2 separate regions of the Homo sapiens genome follow, and region 1 is linked to region 2. The links come from fine-mapping of genetic effects on gene expression. A gene starts in region 2. The other region holds a variant in brackets. All regions are shown on one strand. Distances are from middle to middle. Region 1 has its middle 28 kb from the start of TRIML2. Region 2 holds the start of ZFP42 (ZFP42 zinc finger protein).

Region 1 (2,912 bases), 85 kb after region 2:
GCCAAACGGCTAGGAAATAATCAATTCTATTTATTTTTTCCTTCAAGGTACCCTTCTGTGAATCTTCCACCTTTTGTTCTAATTAGGGCCAACTGATGCTGTCGTCCTGGGAATTTTCCCATTCACCATCACTTTGCTAATTCCTTCACCTCTTTGCTTTCCTGTACTCAGGAGACATCCTTGGCAAAACTTAATGGTTGCTGGGTCATGATGAAATATTATAGGCATACTAGAGAAGCTGCTTGATTAAGTAGCCATCAGTTCGACAAAACAAAAAACAAAAACAAACAAAAGCTAATTTGTAGAGTTTTTTAGATAAAATTGTCCTGTGAAACTTCAAAATCAAGCTTCCTCATCTGTTCATTAATGCTGAGATCTTTGTTTTGTTCCTTCAGGTAAGGCAAATACCCGACATACAGGGATTGTTTAATAAACACTTTCTGGGTTTCTTGTTCATTCATTTAACGCCTTTGCCATCATGGGGTTTCCATTCCAGACAGGAAGTTAAATACATAATGTTAAATCAGGTCATGATTAATGCTACAAAGAAAATAATGTAGGGTAAGAGGTAAGAGAATGAGTGGGGATTGGAGAGAATGTTCAGGGAGGGCGCTCTTTGTGGAGGACAGATCAAGAAAGGCCTGTGTGGTGGCAGCCAGCTGGAGCCTAGCACTGCGGTCCAGATGAAAGATCACAGCCTCAACTAGTGTGGTCAAAGGGAGGATGGCGAGTGTTTGCTGAGGGACATATATGGATGGTAGAGCTGACAGTCTTTGCTGATAGATTGAACACAGAATGGCAGCAAAATAAAGGATGGCTCCAAAGTCTGTGCTGTCAGAATGAGCCCCTGAAGCTTTTAGAATGCACGGGGTGCCTGCGAGGGTGGCACATTTGGGAATCTAGTTGGCTCTGACTGAAGCTATGGAGAAACGTGGCAAAGAAGTGAGGAAGAAAGGATGCTGAGGCGGGCTTAGGAGGCCCTTTATTAAAGCCTGGCTGTGTTTATAATCGCAGGCAAGAAGGGAAGCTAATGTAGTAATTCAGAAGGATGAAGAGAACTAAATTGAGGAAATAGGTTTTCATTTTTATCAAGCAATTCATCATTGACTACGACTCCACATTAATTCAGCTCTACCCATAAAGCCAATTAAATTACCCCAAGAAATCAATAAAAACACAGGCAGGGTGGGGAAGACATTCTTGATGAACATTCACACGTCTTTTTTATAAGTATTTGGGAAGAGATTTCGGGCTAAAGGGGTGAAGCATGTTCCCTACATCACTGTAGACCTAGGAAACGAATTCTATTTCTCCTTTTCCCTCCATACAAGCAATCTAACTCCACAATGAAGATAGGGACAGCACATTCTCAGGGGAAATTGACATGGACAGTTCCTGGACTATAGCTCACTCCTATCTGAAGCTCTGAATGTTAACATCCAATGTAGGAACAGCTTTTAGCTTCAGAAATTCCACAGGCCAAAGAACAATGATAACCATTAAGAAGATTGCAACAGGAGCTTTTACCTCCACCCTCTTTTTCAAATACAAAGTTCTCTTGTATCTCTGAGTATCTGGAATGACCACATAGTTCTCCTATCTGAAATAAGACAGACACACAAAA[CAG/C]GGTAATCTAGCTGACCAGAGAGTGCTGGGATAAACACAAAGCTCACTAAAACGGTTAGGGAGGGGAAAAGCTTATTCACATAGTTTTAACTTTTTTTTTTTTTTTTGAGACAGTCTCGTTCTGTCGCCCAGGGTGGAGTGCAGTGGCGTGATCTTGGCTCACTGCAACCTCCACCTCTTGGGTTCAAGCGATTCTCCTGCCTCAGCCTCCAGAGTAGCTGGGACTACAGGCGCCCGCCACCACGCCCGGATAATTTTTTGTATTTTTAGTAGAGACGGGGTTTCACCATGTTAGCCAGGATGGTCTCAATCTCCTGACCTCGTGATCTGCCTGTCTCGGCCTCCCAAAGTGTTGGGATTACAGACGTGAGCCACTGCGCCCGGCCAATGTTTGTATTTTTAGTAGAGACGGGGTTTCACCATATTGGTCAGGCTGGTCTTGAACTCCGGACCTCGTGATCCACCTGCCTCGGCCTCCCAAAATGCTGGGATTACAGGCATGAGCCACTGCACCCAGCCTGGTTTTAACCTGTTTTTTAATTAAAAATTTTATTTTACATAAATACACTTTTTGAAAATAATTTTAAGTTTCCATCAACGGCTTCCTTTGAGTAATGTGAACCTCACTTCCACATCTTTGCCAGGCCTCGACTTCCCCAACTCTCCCCTCCAGTGAGCCTGTTATCTGTCTGCAAATACTTTTAACGAGATACAATTTGTGTGGTTGGAAAGAATAAACAGCCCAGGTTTCAAGAGTCTGAATATCACTCTCTGGAGATTTTGAATGTATTGGCTCTATTTCTGACTCAGTTAAAAAAAAAAAGTACTGCCACTTAGGGTAGATGAGGTCATAGAAAGCATTCTGAACCTTCCCTGGCAGGTAGCAAATGTACGACAAACTGAAATTGCTATTTTGAAAGGAGAAGCAATATTTACATTTACATCCTTTCTATTTATCATTCTACCACATCCATCTATCATTACAGAGAATTCCTTCTTCTCATGTGAGGTTAAATTTCCAATCTCATACTTGATTTTTTCCAGGTCAAAAGTCTCATTCTCTTATATATGTTCCAATTTGTCGAGGCATAACTGAAATGCAAATTTACCCATGTTTTGCCGTTACCCACCTACGTGTTTTTTAACTTCCATGTACCATTGATAATATTTATCACATTCCAGTCAGAAAATCCGAAAAATCAAAGCTTCAAATTCCTTCCTTATTCCCTGTGAATTCTTATCTCCTCTCTATCCTGTAATTCCTTTTCCTGCTTTGTGCAAGATCA
Region 2 (2,912 bases):
AAGGAAGGAAGGAAGGAAGGAAGGAAAATTATATTTTATTGGCCAACCTCAAAATTGAAGCTTATTCAGAAACAGATTTAAAAAAAGAAAAAAGTGGAGAACTGCTCCCAGATATATATGCAGAAAAGCTTCAAGTCAACATTTAGGAGGTTTTTAAATATCGATCTGGGTTTCGTTCTAATGGTCTGGGTGTACTTATACGACCTATTACATTTCACTAGACTGTAGCCAATAGTGAGCGTTGACTGACCATTGCTTTCAAAGTGAGTTGTGTTGCCTTTAGCAATACAGTCACATTAATGGCCAGAAAAAGAAAAAAGAAAACAAACACTGGGGGTGTTTGAAACAACTGGGGGTAGGGTGGGGTGGGAAAGGTGTGGGGGTTTGCGTTCGAGTCAACCTCTATTTCGGGGGGTAAAAACTGCCTCCTCCGCTTGATTTTTTTCCTCGATCTGCAAAAGCGTAAATGTTTTGTTTTGTTCTATTGAGATGGAGCCTCGCTCTATCACCCAGGCTGGAGCTTAGTGGCGCGATCTCGGCTCACTGCAACCTCCGCATCCCGGGTTCAAGCGATTCTCCTGCCTCAGCCTCCTGAGTAGCTGGGATTACAGGCGAGCACCACCATGCCTGGCTAATTTTTGTATTTTTCGGTAGAGACGGGGTTTCGCCATGTTGGCCAGGCTGGTCTCGAACGCTTGACCTCATGTGATCCCCCCGTCTCGGCCTCCCAAAGTGCTGGGACGACAGGCGTGAGCCACCGCGTCCGGCCTAAAAGGGTAAATGTGATTACACCCACGCGTATTTGTTCAACAGACATTTATTGAGCGCTCACCACGTGCCAACGCCGGGCGTCTGGGCTCTGGAGGCGCTGCCACGTGGCGGATGCGCAGTGCCCGGCGGCCGGGCTGAGGGGTGAACGCGGGGGTCAGGGGGCCCCGGGCTGAGGGTTTGCGTGCGGGCCGGGTGCCTGGGGGCCCCGGGCTGAGGGTGAGCGCGCCGCCCAGGTGCCAGGCGGCTCCGGGCAGAGAGTGAACGCGCGGGCCAGGTGGCTCCAGGGCGGCGCCCCAGGGCGGGGCCGGCCACGCCCTCCCTAACCCTGGCGGAGCTGATGGGTGGCTGTAGCCTGATTAGACCGCGTCAGTCCGGAGGGTGGGTCTTGGGAGGGGGCGCAGGGCAGTCCACGTTTCCACTGCAGTTTCTCCTTTGTTTTACGTTTGGGAGGAGGTGGCATTGGAAATAGCAGAGTGCTTCGCGGTAACAGGGGTGAGTCTTGTTTCATGGAACTTTTTTCAAATGGGGAGAAGGGGGTTGTGTTGCTCACTACTTGGAATGTGTCGGTCAAAGGGGTTAGATAGTCAGGGAGGGGAAGCGTGTTCTCATCCTGGGACCAGGCCGGAGCCGGCCTCGCCGGGAGACTTGTAGCCCTCGCCCTGCGGTGACCCGTGGCTGGCCACTGGCCTCAAATGTTGAAAACGGGCAGATGGGCAAGTAATACACTCTCAAGAAAGCAAGTGTCTGGCGGTGATTTCCTAAATTGCATTTTTTATTTTATTTCAAAACTTCATGTAAATATGTTTCCTTACAATATCTGGCTAAGTCTTTTCTATATTAACATGCTTACATTGTGATCAAGACACCAGTCTCTTCCCTTTCTTTTCCTCTCCTCTTATCTCTGGAGATGGCAATACCCCCAACTCAAATTACTCTAGCAAAAAACCTAGGAGACTCTTTCTTTTCTTTTTTCTTTTTTTTTGGAGACAGTCTCGCTCTGTTGCCAGGCTGGAGTGCAATGGCGCGATCTCGGCTCACTGCAACCTCCGTCTCCCGGGTTCAAGGGATTCTCCTGCCTCAGCCTCCCAAGTAGCTGAGATTACAGGCGCCCTTCACTGCGCCCGGCTAATTTTTGTATTTTAGTAGAGACGGGGTTTCACCATGTTGGTCAGGCTGGTCTCGAACTCGTGACCTCAGATGATCCGCCCGCCTCAGCCTCCCAAAGTGCTGAGATTACAGGCGTGAGCCACCGCGCCGGGCGAGACTCATTCTTGATTCCTGTTTCCCTTCCGCTCTTCATCCAATCCACCGGCGAGCTGCAGGGCGAGGGGGTGGTTCTTTCTCCTGTTTTCCCGCTCTCCCTGCATTTCATCTCCTCTGCCGCCATCTGCTCCAAACCCCTGGCAGCCCTTCGCGGGATTCCCAAATCTAATAGATTTTTCTGTTCTCCCCAAATCCATTCTCCATGCAGCTGTCCGGCCCATCTTCTAACCTAAAAAAACTTGCTGTTTGCTTGTTGGAAGCCCTGTAATGGTTTCCTTGGGACCTGGGATGAAATGCAAATGGTCCCGGGGCTCACCGTCAGCCCCGCGCCTGGGCCTCGCCCCAGCCCCCACCTTCCTGCCCGCCATAGCTGTAGGGAGCATGGAGCATGGAGCGTGGAGCGTGGAGCATGGAGCATGGAGCGTGGAGCATGGAGCATGGCCTGCAGCCCCCGGGGAGCGCCGGCAGCCTGGAACCAGCAGGCTTCGCTCGTCTCTTCCCACCCCCGTGCACTTTTCCTCCTGCCCACATCTGGCTCCGATGGCCCCCTCCTTGGGGGCCTTTTCCAGACATTCATGATGAAGGTGGCGTCCTCGGTTACTTCCCCTCTCATATTCTTTTTTTTTTTTTTTTTTTTTTGAGACAGAGTTTTGCTCTTGTCGCTTGGGCTGGAGTGCAGTGGCACGATCTCGGCTCACTGCAACCTCCGCCTCCTAGGTTCAAGCGATTCTCCTGCCTCGGCCTCCCGAGTAGCTGGGACTACAGGCGCCCGCCACCACGCCCGACTAATTTTTTTTATTTTTAATAGGGTTTCACCATGTTGGCCAGGATGGTCTCGATCTCCTGACCTCGTGATCCGCCCGCCTCGGCCTCCCAAA

The links. PIP is the estimated chance that this variant, and not a neighbour inherited with it, causes the effect.
Region 1: its variant is fine-mapped to the expression of ZFP42 in lung (TOPMed, PIP above 0.99).

The regions. Positions count from the first base shown.
Region 1 is chr4:188,080,006-188,082,917 of GRCh38, forward strand. No RefSeq gene overlaps it. Among named protein-coding and RNA genes, the nearest start is that of TRIML2, 28 kb to the right of the region's middle. RefSeq lists an enhancer at 1,218-1,799. The variant CAG/C (reference allele first, on the strand shown) is at 1,625.
Region 2 is chr4:187,994,578-187,997,489 of GRCh38, forward strand. It overlaps ZFP42 (ZFP42 zinc finger protein), which reads left to right and starts at 1,194. Exons shown (of 4, transcript NM_174900.5): 1 at 1,194-1,263. RefSeq lists enhancers at 382-1,361, 1,362-2,343, 1,958-2,252.